3 linked regions of the Homo sapiens genome follow. Changing the gene in region 1 together with any one later gene gives a genetic interaction. Each region holds a gene or a part of one and is shown in the gene's direction. Other genes may lie near its edges.

Region 1 (8,648 bases):
ACACATCAGTCATACACACCTGAATGCACTTATTTATTTTCCCTCTTTAGCCTTATCCTCTATTCTCCCATACACCCACACTCAAACATCTATTCTACTCTGTTCAATATTTACCATTTTATTCCCACTTTATTTATTTATTTAGAGATGGAGTCTCGCTCTGTCACCAGGTTGGAGTGCAGCGGCGTGATCTCTGCTCACTGCAACCTCTGCCTCCTGGGTTCAAGTGACCCTCCTGCCTCAGACTCCCAAGTAGCTGGTATTACAGGCTCCTGCCATCGTGCCTGGCTAATTTTTGTATTTTTAGTAGAGACAAGGTTTCACCATGTTGGCCAGGATGGTTTCGAACTTCTGACCTCAGGTGATCTACCCGCCTTGGCCTCCCAAAGTGCTAGGATTACAGGCATGAGCTACCGCACCTGGCCTATTCCTACTCTTTTATTATGGTAAAATGTACATAACAAAATTGACTATTTTAACCATTTTAAGTGTACAGTTCCATGGCACTGACTGCATTCACATTGTTGTACAACCAACTCCACCATCCATCTCCAGAGTTTTTTCATCTTCTTCACCTGAAACTCCATATCCAGTAAACAATAATTCTCCATTCCCTCTCCCTTTGGCCCTTGGCAACCACTATCTCCTTCCTGTCTCTAAGAATTTAACTATGCTAGGTACTTCTGTAAGTGGAATCACACAATTTTTGTTCCTCTGTGGCTGGTTTATTTCACTTAGCATAATATTCTCAAGGTTCATCCACAATGTATCATGTGTCAGCATTTCCTTCCTTTTAAAGCTAAATAATATTCCATTGTATGGGCCAGGAACAGCGGCTCATGCCTGTAATCCCAGCACTTTGGGAGGCCGAGGCGGGCAGATCACCTGAGGTCAGGAGTTCAAGACCACCCTGGCCAACATGGTGAAACCCCATCTCTACTAAAAATACAAAATTAGCTGGGTGTGGTGGCACATACCTGTAATCCCAGCTACGAGGGAGGATGAGGCAGGAGAATCACTTGAACCTGGGAGGTGGAGGTTGCAGTGAGCCAAGATCGCGCCACTGCACTCCAGCCAGGGCAATAAGAGCGAAACTCTGTCTCTAAATAAATAAATAAATAAAATTTAAAAATTCCATTGTGTGACTACAATACATCTTGTTTTTCCACCCATCCATTGATGGACACTTGAGTTACTTCTACCTTTTGACTGTTGTGAATAAGGCTGCTACGGACATGGGTGTGGAAATACTCGTAGTCCCTGCTTTCAATTCTTTTGGGTATATCCCCAGAAACAGAATGACCGGATCATATGGTAATTCTGCTCAGTTTTTTGAGGAACTGCCATACATACACCACAGCATTTTCCTCAGAGGCAGCACTACTTCACATCTTCACCAGCAATGTGCAAGGATTCTAATTTCTTCACATCCTTTCCAACATGTTATTTTCTGTTTTTTAAAAGCGAATAGCTGGCCAGGCGCGGTGGCTCACGCCTGTAATCCCAGCACTTTGGGATGCCAAGGTGGGAGGAATCAGCTGAGATCAGGAGTTTGAGACCAGCCTGACCAACATGGATAAATCCCGTCTCTACTAAAAATACAAAATTAGCCAGGCGTGGGTGGCACATGCCTGTAATCTCAGCTACTCAGGCGGTTGAGGCAGGAGAATTGCTTGAACCCGGGAGGCGGAGGTTGCAGTGAGCCAAGATGGCACCATTGCACTCCAGCCTGGGCAACAAGAGCGAAACTCCATCTCAAAAACAAAGAAAAAAAGATAATAGCCATCCTAATGGATGTGAAGTGGTTCAATGTATATCTTTTTATTTGTATAACTTCTTTCAAAATGTATATAATTATTTTGTGTATATGTAATTTGTTTTACATAGTAGCATTATGCTATTCCTTTCCCTCTGTGTCTTACTATTTTCTGTTGGAACTGTGTTTAAAATCTATACATTTGTTTTATGTACATGGAATTCATTGCTTCTCACTTTTGCATAGCACTTTATAGTATGCATGAATCACATCCATGTATATTGAGAACCTACTATGTGCTTGTACCAAGCTTTCTATATGATTTAATCTGATTCCATACAGCAATCCTAAGAAGGTGTTGTAATTATCACATTTTATGGATGAGAAAACTGACACACACAGAGTTAAGGAACGTGCCCAGAGTCACACAGCCGGAAGTGGAAGAGGTAGAAGTTTAACCCAGGTCATTCTGGTGCCACAGAAGAGCTCACACGTGTAAGGTGTTACAAAGAGCTATAGGTAGAGATCTGACTGTAGACAGAGGCTCTCTCTTAGGTGAGGGCACTCTGATAAAAGTTCTAGTCCTGATTTGGCTACTTATCTTCACAGTGCAAATCACCTTCCCTTACAGACATCACTTTCTGTCTGTGTAAGATGAAGATGATTTTAATGCTTTTTCTAGATTCACTACTTGTTGATTAAATACCCTTAAGCTAATGGGAAAATAATCAGAATTGAAGTCAGGTGTTTGTTTCTTTCGTGTATTTGGAGTGGCTGGCCTACCTGGGAGCCACTCCAAATACACGAAAACCCTCTGATGTGTCTATTCACGAGGTGAACTGTTCATAGGATGGACTATTCCCAGGGAAACAGTTGCTGTCTCCACTTCCATCCCACCTCTCCTGAACTTTGCACTTACCATGGTGAAAAATTAACTGGGCTAATGTTTCCCTCCCAAGGACAACCTCTGCAAAAGCAGGTATGGCTGGGCCCCAAAAGACCAGGTGCCAGAACAGAGTTGTACCCATCCAGAGCAGCCCACCCATTCACTGCCCAAAGTCAAGATCAAGAGAACATGCAGGGTCTTCTCAGCACTGGAAGAATCAGTTCCTCAGCCCTCCTCAGAGCTTTCTGAAACTGGACTTAGTCCCCCAGTGGAGGGACTTCTCTTGGAGAAACAGGCCTGAGGAGAAAGAACTAGCCCAGAAATGGCACTTATTAGACTTGTAGGTGGGTCCAGCACTATTTTTCTGCATGCACAGCTGTTCTTGTCACACGGATGCCAGCAGGGAAGCATGGTTCTGCCACACTAACTAGCTGGCTGCCTAGTTATTTCCTCCCCTCAGGAAAATGAGAGGGCTGAATGAGGGCCCCTTCCCATACCATGATTTTACAGGGTGAAGTACCTGTCAGGTCCTTCTACTACATGTAATCCTCAAATCTCTCTGACGCTCTTCCTCTACAGTGCAAATCACTCTCCTTCAGCAGACATTGCTCTCTCTGTAACATAAAGGACTTGAACTACAGGAGGACAGTTACAATGCTCTTTCTGGATCCACCACTCTGCACAGTGAGAACCGCTTGCTCCATTCTTACAGCGGAGAGAACGGACGCTGCCCAAGGGGAAGAAGAGAAAGAGCCGGGATTGGAAGCCAGGCCAGTCACTGATGGATCCTGAGCCCCTCTTACTTTCTTTGGCTACCTCTCAATGGTTGGACTTGTTCAGGTTAAGATTAACACTTTACTGGACGATGATGACTGCAAGGCCCCTGCCCATCTTTGCCCACTCAGTCACATCATCCTCATCCCCACCCTTTGATGCTTCTCTAGGCTGTGAACGCCTTGAAAACCTTAGTCTTTTATTTTGGAAGTTCAGGAACTGAATAGGAGGGCTGCAACTCAGAGCTGCTCCGTCAATGTGTGTTAAACTTATTTGACCTCCCTCCACCACTTTTCATGGCATTAGCAATGCAAACCTTTTCACATGAGCTTCCCACAGCCACCCTAGGAGATCGCGAGGGAAGCTACCTCTAGCCCCATTTTACAGGTGAGCAAATAATCCTTGCAGTGTTACAACAGTGTGCCCGTGTAGAGAACTGTTTTGCAAAGAGCTCGATCAATGATGTCATCTTTGCCTTCCGTGACCCAGGCAGCTGGGTGCAGTCTCAAGATCGGAGACTGAGGCTTCAACAAAGTATTGGGTTCAAATTCCAGCTCTGCCACTTGGAACCCTGAGTAAGTAATGTAATCTCTCTGTGCCTCCGTAAACGTGAGGCACAGGAACATCTACCTCACCAACCACTGTTAAGACTGAATCAAAGGGCAGCAGGCGGACTACCCGGAATGAAGAAAGCAATCAATAAATGTGGATTGTGTCATCCTTGTCTCTCTTGACGGACGGGAAGAGGAGAGTGAAACCTAAGACCACAGCGGCAGCGCGTTAACAGGAGGACCAGCAAGGAACGGAAGCCAGGTTGTCAAGCCTCAGTTGGCTTTCACGTATTCTCCTTTTCAGGCGGGTATTTAGGAAGAGAGGAGGGTGAGGAGCACAGCGCACTTCTGCAGCAGCAGCTGCGGATTGGCTTGTGGGAGGCGGTTCTCCGGAGCAAGGCAAGGGCCCCTGCCGCTTCTGGGCTGACTGTGGATTCCGCCACACCTCACAGGGCTTTGTAACTCCCCACCCACTTGAGGGTTCCAGATAACTTTTTTTTTTTAACAAAGCAGGGGTGGGGGTGGGAGATTCCTGCTGTTAAAAACAAACAAAGGGCTTAGACACCGGCTAGTCGGCTGCGGGAGGCAGCAAGAGAAAGGCCGAGGGGCCTGGAGTAGCTCCTGAAAACCGCCGAGGGCCCTGCGGGCAGACGCCCCTGAATTCTTTTGGTGGGGAGAAAAGCCGCGGAGCTCCCCAATGTGCCAATTGGTTTGTTGTTGTTTTGCTTTTTTTGAATACACAAACTCTCCGAAAACTCCTGTCTTGCCCCACTTTTTTGTGAGTTCATTGCTTTGGAAACAAAACTCTCTTCCATTTATTGGCAATTATCAAATTTCCGATCCTTCTCTATCAGGAGATCCAGCAACAAACACCCTGTTATGTAAATTTCTTTCAAAGATAAATTCGAAAGCCCCTCCATTCATTCCTTCAAGAACTCAACAGATGTCCTTGAGGCTCATTTTCTGCCGGGCACTCGGTTCACAAGGCTCAAGAGACCCCTGGCTCCAGCCATTGTCCAGGTTGTCACTGGTGTCCCCAGCTCTCCACTTCTGAGGACCCACTTCTCACCCCCTCCTCCTCCGCACACGTTCCCGAGGCTCTCGGCCGGTGTGATCTCACCGACTAGAGAATAAAAACAGCCCAGGGGCGCCGGCGCCGGCCAAGGGCCTTGACGGGGATCAGCAAGCGCGAGGCCAAGTGCGGGCCCCAACTTCCTGGGCCCGGGCCTTCCGCGCGCCCCCTCTCGGGCTCGGGTCCTCTCCAGGGTGCACTCGCGTCCGGACGACGCTTACTTGCTGCGAGTCCAACCCTCTCCGGCCCGCAACTCCAACCGAGCCGCCCGAGTGTGGACTCCGAGAGCGGACGCCACGGGCCGCGCTCAGCCCTCCCGCCCGAGGCCCCTCTCGCCGTGTTTCCCAGGACTTCCTCCCCGCGCCCGCCCGACTTCAGGTCGGGGCCGCGCAGGGTCCCGCGCGCTCCAGCCAGGACTGCCGCCGCCCGGGTCGCCCACGTGGGCGTGCTGGGCGCGGGGTGGTGGCCGGCCGGGCGCCCTCCCCGGAGCAGGGGGCGGGCAGGGCGCCCGCGGGAGGAGGTGGCGGGGCGCGGGGGAGGAGGCGGGGAGCCCCGGCGGCGAGGGGGCGGTGACAGCACTTGGAAAGGAGGCTGCACGCGGATTTGCATGAAACACAGACTGGGAGCGGGCGGGAGCGGGAGCGCGGCGCACGCCCCGGGCCGGCCCAGCCAGCGAGCGAGCGAGCGGCGAGCCGGGAGGAGGAGGGTGGCGGGGCGGTGAGGCCGCAGAGGCGGAGGGATCTGCGCATCAAAGCTAGCGAGGCGAGCGAAGTTTGGCCGGGGGTTGGACTTTCCTTCCCGGAGGCGGCACCCAAACAGCTACCCCGTGCGGAAACCCAAACTTCTGCTGCCACTTGGAGTCTCGCGGCCGCCGCCTCCGCCCCGCGTTCGGGGCCTTCCCGACCCTGCACTGCTGCCGTCCGCCCGCCCGGCCGCTCTTCTCTTCGCCGTGGGAGCCGCTCCGGGCGCAGGGCCGCGCGCCGAGCCCCGCAGGCTGCAGCGCCGCGGCCCGGCCCGGCGCCCCGGCAACTTCGCCGAGAGTTGAGGCGAAGTTTGGGCGACCGCGGCAGGCCCCGGCCGAGCTCCCCTCTGCGCCCCCGGCGTCCCGTCGAGCCCAGCCCCGCCGGGGGCGCTCCTCGCCGCCCGCGCGCCCTCCCCAGCCATGTCGTCCATCCTGCCTTTCACTCCCCCGATCGTGAAGCGCCTGCTGGGCTGGAAGAAGGGCGAGCAGAACGGGCAGGAGGAGAAATGGTGCGAGAAGGCGGTCAAGAGCCTGGTCAAGAAACTCAAGAAGACGGGGCAGCTGGACGAGCTGGAGAAGGCCATCACCACGCAGAACGTCAACACCAAGTGCATCACCATCCCCAGGTGGGGGCCCGCCCGGGGGGGACCCGGGGTCACGCCGGCCCAGCCCCCTGGCACTGCGGGGCCGACCCAGTGGGGCTGGAGATGGGAAGAGGGAGAGAGAGGGAGGGAGTGAGACTGTGTGGGTGCGTGTGTGTGAGAGTGGGAGAGCGCGGGCAGGAAGGGGGTGGGGGGACCCCAAACAAAACCATCTCTGATTTGCAAAGATCAGAGCCCGAGGCTTCCACGCGGCACTCTGGCTTCCACACCTCACATTCCCTTTCCACCTCCGGGAGGGGAGAGCGGGTTGCTGCGGGACTCGGCCGCCCCCACTCCGGGGAGCTGGGGCTGGAAGTTGAGGCCCGCTTTGTTCGGCTCCGCGGGCCGGAGCCCCTCCTCCGCCGCCGCCTCCCGCCCCCGCGGCCCGCGCTCGTGGAGGTGGTGGTGTCTTTGCGTTTCTTTTCTTCAGTCGGGTCTCCCCACTTTCCTCTACAGGAATGCGGTCCGTACAGCTGGGGCTGTGGGTGAGGAGCGGGAGCCTAGTGATTGACAGATTCCTTCTTCGTTCTTTCTTTGCCTTCGGGATTAGCATTTTTATCGAGTATTTTTAGACTCGGTTGTGCCAGTCTCCCGCCCCCTGAGCATGCACGCACTTTGGTTGCAGTGCAATGCTCTGACTTCCAAATGGGAGAGACAAGTGGCGGAAAATAGGGTCTTCTCCCACCTCCCACCCCCCCATCCCGACTCTTTTGCCCTTCTTTTGGTCCAAGAGATTTTGAAACCGTGCAGAACGAGGGAGAGGGGCAGGCTGCAGCCGGGCAGATAACAAAACACACCCCAAAGTGGGCCTCGCATCGGCCCTCGCATTCCTGTAGAGCCTTCCTTCCCAAAGCGCGCTGCCATCTGTCTGGATCTCCTTTATCCTTCCCGTTGCGCGCTAGCTAGGTCGGGCGGGAGCCCACAGATGGCTGATAGAAGGGGTCAGTGACTTCACTCCCCCAGGGCCTTCCTTAGCTTAGATGTGCCTGGCTGGGAACTGGGGGTGCGGGTACCTTGGCTTCCTGTCTCTACCTCTCAGCCTCCTTTGATGCTGAACCAAGGGAGAGAGCGTGTGTGTTGGGGGCTGGCTCTTTTGGGGGTCCCAGGCTGCCGAGGAATGAGTAGAAAGCACCAGGGACTGTCAGCCGCAAAGGGATTGTCATCCCTGCTCCTGGGCCAGGGTGGACTCCATCCTTGGCCACCTGCTTGGGGCAGTTGTACAGGGGCTGCCAGGCGAGTCAGGCAGGCACAAAGCAACATCTGTCCACGGGAACCGAGGGCAGGCCTCCCCTGGAAATAAATGCCACATATGGTGGGAGTGCGGACTTAAATTTTTTTTAACTGGGTGGATCCAGTCAATAAAGGGGGAGGGAAGGCGGTGTGCTGTCTGGGGAAGTCTCTGGGCGTGTGATCGGGAGCCAGAATTGACTTCAGAGGAGGTGGTGTGATGTGATGGTCAGAGAGACCTGGGATTTGGTTCCAGCTCTGGTTGTTAATTCTTCTGTATTCCTTCCGTGGGGGTGGCTAGGGTAGAGTGGGTGAGTATGCTACTTCTCTTTCTGGGGAGGGGTCTGCCAAACCTACCTTCTCCTTATCTGCCTGGGTGCATTGAAGACAAGTGCTTTATGTATTGAAACAGAAGAAAAAAAGTGGTATCAATTGTAAAACAGGCAGCTGTGAAAAGTGTTTCACAGTTTACAAAGCACTTTCACATGGTTTTCTGAGGTCCTCAAAAAAAGACAGAAAGCAAGCAAGCAACCAGCCATGGAAAGTAGATAAGGTTGTTAGGCTTAAGATTATCACATTTTTAAAGCAGAGGAAACCTTAAAAGAGAGAGGTGAAAAGGCTTGAGTCATAGACATGGGGTTCTGCCTGAATGTGCTCTTTCTGCTGCCCCATGCTGCTTTATACTTTGAAGATCCTGAATACATTCTTTGCTGAATGCTAAAGCTGTGTTAGCTTGGGGAGGGCCCTGTGGATCTTTGTATGTGCGGTTGCTTCTTTAATCTTTGGGCTGGTGATAGCTTGGCAGAGAGGCCTTGCTTTCCCTTGCCTTGGTAGGAGTTTGTCCTCTGTGGGGCCATACCTTTGGCCTGCCTTTTCCTCTTCCAAAGTCCTGCTGAGACTTTGGAAGCCTAAGACGTGTGAACGCTTTGGATGATTCTGAGAGTTCAAGCCAACCTGCCCTGTGGCCTTCTCGTGACTTTGTTAGGACTGAGGCATCTT
Region 2 (8,634 bases), on another chromosome or scaffold:
AGTGGTTGGTATGTAAAAGGCACTCAGAAAGTATTTGTACAATCAATGAATGTGAAGGTGGTGAACATCACCTTTGGTAATAAGTACCATTTTAAAAAATGCTTATAAGTGCATAGTTAGGTATTTATATTTATGGGTTCATGAAATATTTTGATATAGGCATGCAGTGCATAAGGATAAATGGAGTACCTATCACCTCAAGCATTATCTTGTGTGACAAACAATCCAGTTATACTCTTTTGGTTATTTTTATTTTATTTTATTTTATTTTTTTCTTTTGAGACAGGATCTCACTCTCGCCCAGGCTGGAGTGCAGTGGAGCAATCTCAGCTCACTGCAACCCCCGCCTACCGGGTTCAAGAGATTCTCCTGCCTCATCCTCCCAAGTAGCTGGGATTATAAGCATGTACCACCATGCCTGGCTAATTTTTGTATTTTTAGTATAGACAGGGTTTTGCCATGTTGGCCAGGCTGGTCTCGAACTCCTGACCTCAGGTTATCCACCTGCCTTGGCACCCGGCCTCTTTTAGTTTCTTTAAAATGTACAATTAAATTATTTTTTACTATAGTCACCCAAAACAAGTACCTTTGACATAAGATTTGATTCTGAATTTTACTCAAATGAATGTTAAGATCCCCAAGATAAGTTAAACTTTGGACTATCTCACCTGTTTAATCTGTACCTATGCATGACTTCCCACTGTGCTTGAGGATACCTGAATATCACTGAGTTTGTGTGACTGATCAGCCTTGAACTCAAGAGTAAATCCAAGTCTGCAGTCAGGACACCCCAATCCTCAAAATAATACCATCATTAGCATTTATTTAGTACTTTCTCCCAAATCAGTATTTAATTTAAATTGCCAAAAGACTTACAATGTGGTATCAATTTATATTTAAATATGCTACATATAGCTTTTTAAAGCATCTTTGGTTCTCTGGAAACCATAGTCAGAATTTAAGGAAGTTATTGTGGCACCATTTTCTTGAAAAAGGCTATTGATTATTCTCTAATCTGACACCAACCTAAGTCATTAAAGGAATTTTAGTTACTGAAGATTGTATATTCATGAACTCTTCACTTAGCTCACTGGCAGCAAAGGAGTTTTATTTAGGGGGTTTGAAAAAGGAAATGGGTACATTTTCAGCTATTCTGGGACGCACTGTCAGAATGTAAGCAGTTACAACTGATTCCACTAAATAAACATTTGTTTTCCAAAACAATGATGAACATTCAGCATCTGTTCATTTAATTGAAAATTCAAAGTTAAAATATTTTCTCTGCATGATTCTTTTTCTTTTCCCCCCTAGTGTTTACTAAAGGACAAGTCACCACAGGACAGTACAGGATGCTTGCCAAAAGAGGTGGATATGTCTGGGTTGAAACTCAAGCAACTGTCATATATAACACCAAGAATTCTCAACCACAGTGCATTGTATGTGTGAATTACGTTGTGAGGTAAGTAAGTTTGAGAAATAAACATTTTTGGGGAACAAATAGTAATTCTTTTTGGATACTCTGTTCATTTATAGGAAGATAAGATAATAAATATTAACTAAATTTTAATTCTTTTACATCGCTACCAAATTATTATTTTCTATACTCTGACCTAGGTTTCCAGTCCAGCTATTCCACAGTGATGCTGCTAAACACTGTCAGTAGTTGTCTATCCCCATACCTTCACTCCTATTTTTAAAAAGACCATGAAAAAAATACCAGATCCATTGATTGGTTTGGTCTAATTATACAGATATCGGCATATACTATCTCAAGACAGCTGTGTTCTTTTTGTAGGAAGAATCCTGGCCTAGATTTGTATCATAGCTCTACCACTCATTAGCTCCCTGACCTTGGGGAAGTCTCTTCATTTTTCTGAATTTCATCTATGTAGATAATCCTTCAGAAGGTTATAATGAAAATTAAATGAAATTCTATGAGATTAGGGAGGGGGGAGGGATAGCATTAGGAGATATACTTAATGTGAATGATGAGTTAATGGATGTAGCACACCAACATGGCACATGTATACATATGTAACAAACCTGCACGTTGTGCACATGCACCCTAGAACTTAAAGTATAATTTAAAAAAGAAAAGAAATTCTATGAGATTAATAAGCTATATGATGTAATACATGGCTCTTGTATATTCATGAACTCTTCACTTAGCTCTTTGGCTTGTGAATATTATGTACATCAAAATTTAATTTTTCATTTGATCTATTTTACTAGACTCCTGCCCCATCTAGTCTACCTGTCCACATTATTACCACATTCTAGTCCATCTTGCCCATTACTACCAGGCTAAGCTTTCTAGTGTGGATATGTCATCATCTTATTTTCCTTAGAATTTTAGCGATCTTTTTATCATTTCCAAGATAAACACTTGCCTAGGTGTACAGCATCCTTGTTTACCATCATACTCACGCATTAGAGATTTAGCCTTCCCTTTAAAATCTAGGGTCACTCCTCTTAGGAAGACTTTGGGCAGTTTTTATTTTTGCTACTTCTGACACCATCCTTTAATGTTTTAATATTAGTGCCACAGAGTTCTTTTGTGACTTTACCATTATGTAAGAATCTTCCACTTGGAATGTCTTTCTCTTCCTCACACCCCAGTCTGCCTAGCAAATGCCACTTGATCCCAAGTATCAGCTTGTTAGCTTCTCAGTGAAGCAAGCCTTCTCTATTTTAGCAGTTATCACAGTGTATTTTAATTGTTTACATATCTACTTTCACAATGGGTTATAAATTTCTTAAGGTCAAGGGTTGGCTATTTTAATCTTTGCATTATCAGTTCATTTCAGATAGTGAACATTTAATACGTTAATTAAAGGAATAATTTACATTTAAGCCAAACGTGAAGATAAACTATTGCTCATCATCCCTCTTCAGCCGTATCCTGTAGGTGGTATCACCTTATATTCTTACCACCAAAGAAAATATGGCCCCTCTCTTAGAAAGATCTTAATCATTTATCTGTGTATCTTTAGGACTATCCTTAGATCATGCCTCACATATTGATGCCAAAGAGTTCTTTTGTGCCAATTTCATAATGTGTGTCAGCACAACAATTCTGAAGATTTGTTGGTGTCTTTCATGTACTTGACTACAAATTGCCTTGCCATTACTACTCTTCTCAAAGGATATCTGAAATTCTTTTTTTCTTTTTTTTTTTTGAGATGGAGTCTCACTGTCACCCAGGCTGGAGTGCAGTGGCGTGATCTTGGCTCACTCCATTTCCCGAGCTCAAGTGATTCTCATGCCTCAGCCTCCCAAGTAGCTGGGACTACAGGTGTGCACCACCACACCGGGCTAATTTTTTGTATTTTTAGTAGAGACAGGGTTTTGCCATGTTGGCCAGGCTCTTGAACTCCCAGGCTCAAGCGATCCACCCGCCTCAGCCTCCCAAAGTCCTGGGATTACAGGCATGAGCCACCACGCCCAGCCTGGATATCTGAAATTCTTAACTGAAATTAGTCAAATTATCTTGTACTGGGGATTTTTTTTTTAATTTCAACTTTTATTTTTGATTCAGGGGATACATGCATAGGTTTGTTACATGGGTATATCATGTGATGCTGAGGTTTGGGGTACAATTGATCCTGTCACCCAGGTAGTGAGCATAATACCCAACAGTTGTTCAACCCTTGCCCCTCTCCCCTAGTAGTCCTCAGTGTCTATTGATGCCATCTTTATGTCCACAAGTAACCCAGTGTTTAGCTCCCACTTACAAGTGAGAACATGCAGCATTTGGTTTTCTGTTCCTGGGTTATCTCACTTAGGATAATGGTCTCTGGATGCATCCATGTTGCTGCAAAGGACATTATTTCATTCTTTTTTATGGTTGCATACTGTGGATTTTATTGGGTCTTTATTTTGTATTAGCATTTTAAAACCCTAAATGTGACACAGTACGCATGAGTGATCATGCATCTCAAGAAATCTTGAAATGTTCCTGTCCATAAAGCAGAATTTTTTAAGAGACCATTTCACAGTCTCCCTTCCCCTCACTGTATCAAGTGCTCATTTGTGAATTACCAATTTCTCTTGTTTTGACAGTGGTATTATTCAGCACGACTTGATTTTCTCCCTTCAACAAACAGAATGTGTCCTTAAACCGGTTGAATCTTCAGATATGAAAATGACTCAGCTATTCACCAAAGTTGAATCAGAAGATACAAGTAGCCTCTTTGACAAACTTAAGAAGGAACCTGATGCTTTAACTTTGCTGGCCCCAGCCGCTGGAGACACAATCATATCTTTAGATTTTGGCAGCAACGGTGAGTAGTTATTTTTGTTAATCCCCTAAATTGTGTCTGTTGCTACAAGCCCCATTTCAACTAAACATTACTTTACGGTTTTTGTTGGTAATCATTTGGACATTACAAGCTAATATATGTTTATAGTTTTCTTAAATGTATTTGCTTAAATATTTTTGCCCCCGTAATTTCTTACCATTCTTGCTTTTTTATACTGTTGGAAATTGTGCTTCAAAGTGTCCTTAAGGTATTTCTTCTTCCCACATAAATTTTTCCTGGCTACTCTATTTCTGTATCCTGCTGTCAGATTTTCTCCACAGTTTAGCAGAGTTATATGGAAGTAGGCATTGTTGCATTAAAGGATAAAAAAGTAGTCATACTATAACATCAAGCATTGAAGATGAAAACTGCAATTTTAAAGTAGAGAACATTTTAATGTATAAAAAGGTTGGTATTGCCTTTTGTCTTTTATGCCATAGAGATTAAGACGCGGTATCAATAGTGGATTGTAAAGGTAACTCAGACTTATGGTTATACTATACTATTGTATGTAAACTTTCTGATGAAGGAAAATTTGGTGACATTTTGTTGTTTGATGAATTAGACAAACCTTTTGTGAAAAAGAACATAAATTTTTTATATGTGAAAATCCTTGTGGCCGGGCGCAGTGGCTCACGCCTGTAATCCCAGCACTTTGGGAGGCCGAGGCGGGTGGATCACTTGAGGTTAGGAGTTCGAGACCAGCCTGGCCACCATGGTGAAACCCCGTCTCTACCAAAAATACAAAAGTTAGCTGGGCGTGGTGGTGTGCGCCTGTAATCCCAGCTACTTGGGAGGCTGAGGCAGGGGAATTGCTTGAACCTGGGAGGCAGAGGTTGCAGTGAGCCAAGATTGCGCCATTGCACTCCAGCCTGGGCAACAGAGCAAGACTCTGTCTTGGGTAAAAAAAAAAAAAAATCCTTCTATACTTTAGATTGACTCATATTTTTTCCCCACAGACACAGAAACTGATGACCAGCAACTTGAGGAAGTACCATTATATAATGATGTAATGCTCCCCTCACCCAACGAAAAATTACAGAATATAAATTTGGCAATGTCTCCATTACCCACCGCTGAAACGCCAAAGCCACTTCGAAGTAGTGCTGACCCTGCACTCAATCAAGAAGTTGCATTAAAATTAGAACCAAATCCAGAGTCACTGGAACTTTCTTTTACCATGCCCCAGATTCAGGATCAGACACCTAGTCCTTCCGATGGAAGCACTAGACAAAGTTCACCTGAGGTAGGTGTCATGATATAATCAGAAAGGGACAACTTTCAGATTTTAACATTCAAGAATGTATTTATAAGTTTGATTCAAACACTTATTTGAACCACAAATTACATTTGTGTGTGTGTTTGAATTTTAGCACTTTAAAATTATTGCAAGAGCTACTGCCTAACCTAGACCTGAGCACATGTTTTAGGCTCAAAGATAGTCAGGAACATGGGAAGAAACTAGCTTAATATAAACCAAAAGGTGAAACGTACATTGTTTCTCTATTATTTATATCAGTAGGACAAAAACATCTTGAATTTGGACATTTAAAGAGAATAGTACTAAGTGTGCTCAAGGTAGCTACAGCCTATACCTGTTACCCCTTTTAGTTTGTTTTATTGTGTTTTGTTTTGTTTTGAGAAAGAGTCTCACTATCACCCAGGCTGGAGTGCAGTGGTGCAATCACAGCCTCAACCTCCCAGGCTCAAATGATTCTCCCACCTCAGCCTCCCAAGTAGCTGGGACTACAGGCCTGCATCACCATGCCTGGCTAATTTTTTAACCTTTTTTTGTGTGTGTGTGTGGAGTTGGGGTTCTCACTATGTTGCTCAGGCTGGTTTTAAACTCCTGGGCTCAAGCGATCCTCCTGCCTTGGCCTCCCAAAGTACTAGGATTACAGGCGTGAGCTACCATGCCTGGCCCATTACCCCTTTGAGTTGGAGAACTGTCTGGTAGCAATAGACTTACGAGGGTTTAAATGGGAAAGGACCTTATAAATTCTTTGCCCAATTTAGTCTAATTTCCATCACTATTTTGAAATTTTGGGTAAGTATAATATGAAAATAACAAGTGTTACATAAAATAAATACTTAGTAACTGGTCTTTTTTATTCTGGATCTGTCTTGATATTAATTGTCCTATGAACACAAAAATAATCTTTAAAGGCTAGGCTGGCCAAGACTTAGAGATATCACACAGGGCTCTATTTCTAAATCTAGAATGATTCCATTTTAGGGCTTCCTACATCTAAAAATATGCTCAGGAGTAGGGCAACTTAGATCTGAACATTATAACTTGATAAATGAGGCATAAATAAGCTTTAATAAGTGGTAAATAATTCTACATTAGGTATTTGTTGAATAAAACTGACAAGCTAAGAGTAGGGGATTTGACATCTCACAGCCTTGTGTTGAATGAATATATATCCTATGCTCTGGTTGCTTAATTTACCCAGAAAAAAAAATGTTTGATTCATCTTGGTTTTTATCTAACAAAAGTAAATCTAACAAAAACGTTAGAATGAGGAAAGCAAAATTTCTTGTTTAGAATACACAGCTATAGTTTTTTGTTAAACTTCTTGCCCAGAACTCTTAAAATAGTAATAATGTACATTCGTTCAGGTATATGCAGGTAAAATAACTTAGGTTTCTACTCCCACCCCCGACAGTAACAGTGAGATTTTTAGGTAGCTCAGTCACCACAGGAGTGTGCCTTCTCAGTTCAAAGGTAAATTCCAGTGAATGTAGCATCTAGTTAATTGGTCAATTAGGTACCATTGTGGGATGTGAATTACCAAATAGGTTTTATTCTTTAGAATAAGGTGTTTCTTTTCATCTCAATTTTGTAAATGATGTTATATTACATAGTCAGAAATATATATATTGGCAAAATTAGTTACCAGTATAAGCTTCAAAATGTCACTATTTTCACAAATTTTTTTTTTTTTTTTTTTTTTTGACATGGAGTCTCACTCTGTCGCCAGGCTGGAGTGCAGTGGCATGATCTTGGCTCACTGCAACCTCTGCCTCCCAGGTTCAAGTGATTCTCCTGCCTCAGCCTCCTGAGTAGCTGGGATTACAGGCGTTTGCCACCATGCCTAGCTAATTTTTGTATTTTTAGTAGAGACGAGGTTTCACCATGTTGGCCAGGATGGTCTCGATCTCTTGACCTCATTATCCCTCCACCTTGGCTTCCCAAAGTGCTGGGATTACAGGCGTGAGCCACTGAGCCCGGCCTAGTTAAATAAAATTTGATAAACACGATGGACTTGGTTGTGTGTTTTCTGGTTTTTCTGAGATCTAGTTTGAAAATTCTGACAACTAGCAAAGTATATGGAAGCTTCTTCAGGAAATAGTAAACATATTTCTTTTTACAGCCTAATAGTCCCAGTGAATATTGTTTTTATGTGGATAGTGATATGGTCAATGAATTCAAGTTGGAATTGGTAGAAAAACTTTTTGCTGAAGACACAGAAGCAAAGAACCCATTTTCTACTCAGGTATATGAACTTATTTGTTTTATATTAAATTTCATTAATTTTTAGTCTGAAGTGACTTTGAGTTTCACTTGTTTTTTATTTATAAGGTGTGGCCATTGTAAAAACTCATGTATTTGCTGTTTTAAAGGACACAGATTTAGACTTGGAGATGTTAGCTCCCTATATCCCAATGGATGATGACTTCCAGTTACGTTCCTTCGATCAGTTGTCACCATTAGAAAGCAGTTCCGCAAGCCCTGAAAGCGCAAGTCCTCAAAGCACAGTTACAGTATTCCAGCAGACTCAAATACAAGAACCTACTGCTAATGCCACCACTACCACTGCCACCACTGATGAATTAAAAACAGTGACAAAAGACCGTATGGAAGACATTAAAATATTGATTGCATCTCCATCTCCTACCCACATACATAAAGAAACTACTAGTGCCACATCATCACCATATAGAGATACTCAAAGTCGGACAGCCTCACCAAACAGAGCAGGAAAAGGAGTCATAGAACAGACAGAAAAATCTCATCCAAGAAGCCCTAACGTGTTATCTGTCGCTTTGAGTCAAAGGTATTTATATGTAACATTCAAGTTATAGTTCTTTTATTATTTTTGAGATAAATGTATGTGATAGTACATGATTTTTAAACTTATAGCAAACTTTCTGATATATATGCCCTAACGCAAATTCTTGAGAACTCAAAAAACTTTCTAAATTAACCTCATATATTTTTTCTTTTTCTTTCTTTTTTTTTTTTTTGAGACAGAGTCTCGCTTTGTCGCCCAGGCTGGAGTGCAATGGCATGGCACCATCTCAGCTCACGGCAACCTCTGCCTCCTGG
Region 3 (6,226 bases), on another chromosome or scaffold:
TGCAGAAATTTATCCTTTTAACTAAAGTTCATCATTATGCTGATGTTATGTATTATGGTACAGTGAGTTTTAGGCTTTATTGGCTGGGAGGGAGGGGGGAATCTTATGTCAAAGTCATATGCTAAACACATGCAAGGAGATCCGTTCTTTCTGAACTATGTTGTGGGTGTATAACCCCATCTACTTGGCCCGTCTTCCTTTTTGCCAACTTAGGAATTCCTAAGACTCCGTAAAGAACAGTGTGTGGGGGAAAAATCAGTATAGCATATTACAGGGATACCTTTAGGAATCTGAATTGGATAGTTATTTTTATCAGCTTTTTATTTATTCTGTTTTGGAGTTTGAGTTTTGCTTTCATTTTCATGATAACAGTCCTTAGTAAGGGAAAGGGAAAGGCATGGGGATTAATTTGAAGTTAATGTATATTTATCTGATGGACCAGGTATTTCACATAGTTACATGTGGTTCTCAGTATCTACTTTTAGCCTTTCCAAATAGTTTTTGCTTTTAGGTCAAAAATATGTTTAGTTTTTATAAATATATATTTTTATCTATAAGCTGTCTCTTCTTGTTCTTGTCTGTTTCTAGCTGCCCTGCTTTACCAAAGAACGAAGCTTGCTAGATTACACCCAAAGAACAAAAGACAATTTTACGTTTTGTTTCTTGGGGAACATTGATGCATCTGGGTTGCACAAATGGAACCTTGGTGATGGACCATGTAGAATCTATTTTAATTGCTTATGGTTCAGTTTTTATTACTTGAATACAAGTGATTTATAAATAAGATATTCTTTTCTGTTACTTTTATTTAATGCTAGTTTTCAAAGTTTTAGAATGTTTTTGGTTTCATATTTTATTCTTTTTCAAGATTGAGAGAACTGAATTATTTGCCCAAGATCTGAAGTCACAGTGAATACCAGATCTGCCTAGCCTTTCTCTTTCCAAAACCTTGTGTTCTTTGTACTCTTACAACTTTTCTATTCTCTGGTGGGACACAGATGGGAGACAGAATAGGAACATTGGTCTAGTAAAGGGCTTTGAGAACTAATAAGGTGATGAGGCATTAGAAAGTAAATGAGAAAGGTTCATACTTAAAGGTACTACTTGAATATAACAGTGCTCCTAATCTATACATTTTCTCATTAGGTTCCATGGATTAAAATATTTATGGATCATTGTTGATCTATATCTCACCTTTCTGTGTGACAGAATAATTAGTGGACTGTAGGAAATTAAGAGGCAAAGTGTGTAAAAGAGCTCCACCTGGTGGCTCTCTATAGTCATAATAAAAATTGATTCCCTGAGAAATAGGCAGTGAGTTTTAGGATATGGAAATTGGAGGTTGAACTGGTAAGACTTTAAATCTACTTTCTATAGAATTAATGGGGTTTTCATTTACCTCTTTTTCTCCATCCTTAATGAGACATGAAGCCTCATTTGCTTTTTTTAGAGGGACAGTTTGAAACTAGAATGTGTGCTAGATTTGGAAAGGAATAATCTTACAGAGAAAGGGTCAATGATATACCACTTTTGTGATGAGAAATTAATTAAGTACAGGTTTTAATGTTTGCCTTAAGAATTTTCCATCTCCCCAGTAACACAGACAGTATTTTTTTTTTTTAGCATATCAATATTTAACCTAATAGTTAAAATTATCTAATAGCCCTCTTCTTTTTCAGAATCCTACAAGGGACACTTTGGTCCTATTCACTGTGTGAGATTTAGTCCTGATGGAGAACTCTATGCCAGTGGTTCAGAAGATGGAACATTGAGACTATGGCAAACTGTGGTAGGAAAAACGTATGGCCTTTGGAAATGTGTGCTTCCTGGTAAGAATTTTTATTCAGAATAATAAAATTTTTAAAATGCATGATTTTATGTCATTTTTAATCATTAATTTTATTTCAGGGTTCCTGTTTTCTATAAATTTTAAATTATATATTATGGTTTAAGCAGCGAGAAGCCCAGGATTATAAATTGGCCAGAGAAAGGGTCATGTTCCTTTGTTTAAATTTTTTTTGGTATGGCTGGGCACGGTGGCTCACGCCTGTAATCCCAGCACTTTGGGAGGCTGAGGCGGGCGGATCACAGGGTCAGGAGTTCGAGACCAGCCTGGCCAACATGGTGAAACCCCATCTCTACTAAAAATACAAAAATTAGCCAGGTGTGGTGGTACATGCCTGTAATCCCAGCTACTCAGGAGGCTGAGGCACGAGAATTGCATGAACCCAGGAGCCATGCATTGAGCTGAGATCACGCCACTGCACTCCAGCCTGGGCAAGAGTGACTCAGTCTCAAAAAAAAAAAAAAGAAAAATTTGTTGTACAATCTAGTCTGTTCCTAAATTTTTATACTAGCACATTTTGTGGCTGGAATAGATCTAATTCAAAATTTGCTGGAAGGCAATATAAAGAATTTACAAGTAAATGTATCTAATCTCTGAATAGTATTACTCACTGATCCACACCAATAAAGATAGACATGTTCTTAATAAAAAATACCTAGTTACTAATCCCTAAGTAGTTGCAGTATGAACCTAAAAGTAATTTTAAAGAAAGACATACTATTTTTAGAATCACAGTTATTTAAAAAGGAGTTGTTTTTATTATATTTTGTAGCCATTTTCCTGGAATAGTCTTATGTTGCTCTTCTTGCTTATTGAACACTGGAAATTACTTTAATAGTGTAAGTCATATAATCGTCATTGCTTTTCTTTTTACAGAAGAAGATAGTGGTGAGCTGGCAAAGCCAAAGATTGGTTTTCCAGAGACAACAGAAGAGGAGCTAGGTAAATGCTATGGAATTGACTTTTGTAAGAGTCTTGGGGGATTTAAAATTGAACTGTAACAGAAGTTTTACTCATTGGCAGAAGAAATTTATTAAATATGAACATATTTAAATAATGGAAACTTTAAATATTTATGCATGTATATATACATATTTATAAGCTAAATATTTAAATACCTACTGCATAGTAGTAATAGGCACAGAGATGTAGTATGGACACAACCGATGTGGTTACTCTTTCAGAGCTAGAGTCTAACTTAGGAGACATGCCAAAACACAAATTATTGTAAGGGGGATTAAAAAAAGCTTCCTAGAGAAGTGACATTTAAACTGGGAACTAAGGATGAGCAGAAATGATTTAGGTGAGGTCATGAGAGGGGGTGTTGGTAGGGACAGGATGGAAAAGTTCATAGCAGGAAAACTATGTTAACTAAAAGTTCAGAACCAAAAAGGAGCATAGCATATGAGGAACTAAAAGAACTTCTCCATGCCTCCAGGTTAAAGAGCAAAGGCAAAGTGAAGCTGGAGAAGCTAGATCATCTGAGGGCCTCATTTGCTGTATTAGGACTTGGAGAGTTTTATACTAAGAGCAATGAGAAACCTTTGAATTTTAAGAAGAGGACTTTAAAAGATTGCCTTGGTAGTTCAAGACCAACCTGGCCAACATGGTGAAACCCTGTCTCTACTAAAAATACAAAAATTAGCCGGTCATGGTGGCAGATACCTGTAATCCCAGCTATTTAGGAGGCTGAAGCAGGAGAGTAGCTTGAACCCAGGAGGTAGAGGTTGCAGCGAGCCGAGATTGCGCCACTGCACTCCAGCTTGGGTGTCAGAGAGAGACTCTGTCTCAAAAAAAAAAAAAAAAAAAAGGTTGCCTTGGCTGTTGCACGTACAAAGAATTGGACTGGGAACAAGAGTGAACATAAACCAGTTAGGGGGCATTGTAGTCTAGATGAGTGATCATGTAGGTTTTGTTTTGTTTTGAGATGGAGTCTTGCTCTGTTGCCCAGGCTGGAGTGCAGTGGCATGATCTCGACTCACTGCAGCCTCCGCCTCTGGTTTCAAGCAATTCTCCTGCGTAAGCCTCCTGGGTAGTTGGGATTACAGGTGCACCACCACGCCTGGCTAATTTTTGTATTTTTAGTAGAGATGGGGTTTCACCATGTTGATCAGGCTGGTCTTGAACTCCTGACCTCATGATCTGCCCACCTCGGCCTCCCAAAGTGCTGGGATTACAGGCGTGAGCCACTGCACCCGGCCTATCATGTAGTTTTTAATAAGGGTATTGCAATGAGAACAGAAAAAGGTAGATGGAGTTGAGAGTCTTTTGTTAGACTTGTTAGAATTGTGAGATTGATGAGTGGGGGTATCATGAGGAAGAAATATGCAGATTGCTGCCATGAGAAACTGGGTATGATGATTTTGGGGGAGGTTGGGAAGGTGTTTACCATTTACCCAATAGAGTTTTCCTTAAATTTTTTATTGTTAAGCACCTTCTTGCTAAAACAATGTTGATGGTTAATGTTTTGCTTTAAATAGCACTAAATATTAGGATTTGAATCACTAAAAGAGAGGGCCAGATCCTTCGAAGACATGACTTTAATTCCGGGTTTGTTATATAGCTGGAGTCTTTGAAAATTTAGGCCAGAAAGGGACCCTTGGAGGTTGAGTTATGGTGTAAGAGAATCTAGTGGATAAAACACATGAACTCTTTCTTCTTTGCCTTTTCAATGACATGAGTCTAGTTGTTAGTGGCATGTGCAGTTGCTCTCTTCTTTCCCTTACCACAGTATGCTTTACAAACACTTTTTCATTCCTTCATTACACAGAAATGTAGATTTGCTTCTTTCTTTCATTAAGTTGACTAATGTGACTTTTTTTTTTTTTTTTTTTTTTTACTTATAGAAGAAATTGCTTCAGAGAATTCAGATTGCATCTTTCCTTCAGCTCCTGATGTTAAGGCCTGAGCGTCAATCATATGTGCAGTTAGTATACAACTGACTAAAACAAGCAAGCAGAGAAAAGCATCAGCCTTCCAGAGTTACTGTCTGCTTAAGGCAGAAACAGCAGTAAATAATGAGGAAAATGAATTAGCTCCAGTGCTGGAACAACTAACTAACTTGGTGTTACCTGTAAGTGAAAACTCAAGTGTCAGATGAAGGGAGGTGGAGTTATCCTCTTATAGTACAGTGGCCTGTTATCTTTTTAATGAATATATACAAGCCAACATCCAATTTCTATTATTACAATTAGGGTTCTTGTAGCTGTTTATGTTAATATGGAGAAGAAAACTATATTGGCTGATTTTTTCTGATCTTAAAGCAGAATGCCTTTTCTTTTTTTGCTTCAGTTGTAAAGAAGAGGGAATACATGATAAAGTAACTGGTTTGATTTCTCGTTCATTGTACACTGCCTCTGAACATCTAATTGTTTTTAGTTGTCTAAATAAAATGCCTCTAAAACAAAACAATGTTTGGTTTTTTTGGGGAAAAACTACTAATGTGAGTTTTATAAGTGGAAATAGCCAGAAGGTTTTTCTGTATCATAACCATAGCAAAAGGTAAGCCAATTAATCTGTAGTAAACATTATTTTATAATATTGAGATTCAGTTACTTGTCCTGAATTTTTGAAATTCTTATGTCCTTTACTAGTGTTTCATTTACCTTCTCTATTCCCAGATTGGATAGAAGTGCTTGACATGCCTTTTTAAACAATTATTTAAATAATACATGCTAGTTATAAGAAAAAAAAAATCAACTGAAATTTAGCAGTAAGCTGAAAGATCACTTAAAATCCTACCACTCCTCAAAAAACTATTAAAATCAAATGACCATGAATGCATGTTAGGGCATCTCTGTATGTATATACAGATAGATAGAATGGATTTTATAAAAATGGGATTACTATAGTCCTGCAGTGGTTTAAGAAGTATGGAATTTTACCTCATTCTTTAAATTTGGGTGGCATTCAGAAAGCCCTTCTAAAACCTTCTAATAAATTGGATCAGCTGAGTTTAGACTTGTAATTTATTTTTTAAAACAAAGAGGGCATATTAAATGAGTAATTTGGAAATACTTCAGATGAATAAATAACATCTCTGCAACTTCCTTTTTCTCCTGATCAGTCCTGTGAGTGACCCTTGATAACTTTTCTTAAAAGCAATATGAGTCAACCAAAGAATAAGATTAATTTTTGAGGATTTGTGATAACCAGAAGAAAGCACTGTAGGCTGTGACAACCTGTGAGGGCCGAGAGAAATACAGGGGAGCCAACTGGTGATCCATATTGGCTTTCATAGAGTGGTAGTATTTTTGTGTCAGCTTGTTACATGCCTGAACCTCTGGATTGCAGCAGTGTTGTCATTGTACCAGCAGTTGCTCAGACTCTAATCAGAGTCTGATTTACCCTCAATAAAGTTCTGTACGCATCAGATTGGAA

Evidence for each region.
Region 2: of SMAD3 (region 1) and HIF1A, changing one enhances a phenotype caused by changing the other (phenotypic enhancement), as found in Homo sapiens cells (one study listed by BioGRID).
Region 3: of SMAD3 (region 1) and STRAP, changing one suppresses a phenotype caused by changing the other (phenotypic suppression), as found in Homo sapiens cells (one study listed by BioGRID).

What each region holds. Positions count from the first base shown.
Region 1 is NC_000015.10:67,059,954-67,068,601, forward strand, and holds the start of SMAD3 (mothers against decapentaplegic homolog 3), read left to right. Parts: upstream 1-5,648; 5' UTR 5,649-6,201; coding exon 6,202-6,407; intron 6,408-8,648. UniProt on the Homo sapiens protein: Receptor-regulated SMAD (R-SMAD) that is an intracellular signal transducer and transcriptional modulator activated by TGF-beta (transforming growth factor) and activin type 1 receptor kinases.
Region 2 is NC_000014.9:61,732,827-61,741,460, forward strand, and holds part of HIF1A (hypoxia-inducible factor 1-alpha), read left to right. Parts: intron 1-1,311; coding exon 1,312-1,459; intron 1,460-4,062; coding exon 4,063-4,283; intron 4,284-5,260; coding exon 5,261-5,547; intron 5,548-7,678; coding exon 7,679-7,801; intron 7,802-7,928; coding exon 7,929-8,362; intron 8,363-8,634.
Region 3 is NC_000012.12:15,898,225-15,904,450, forward strand, and holds the end of STRAP (serine-threonine kinase receptor-associated protein), read left to right. Parts: intron 1-1,679; coding exon 1,680-1,829; intron 1,830-2,722; coding exon 2,723-2,788; intron 2,789-4,692; coding exon 4,693-4,754; 3' UTR 4,755-5,254; downstream 5,255-6,226. UniProt on the Homo sapiens protein: The SMN complex catalyzes the assembly of small nuclear ribonucleoproteins (snRNPs), the building blocks of the spliceosome, and thereby plays an important role in the splicing of cellular pre-mRNAs.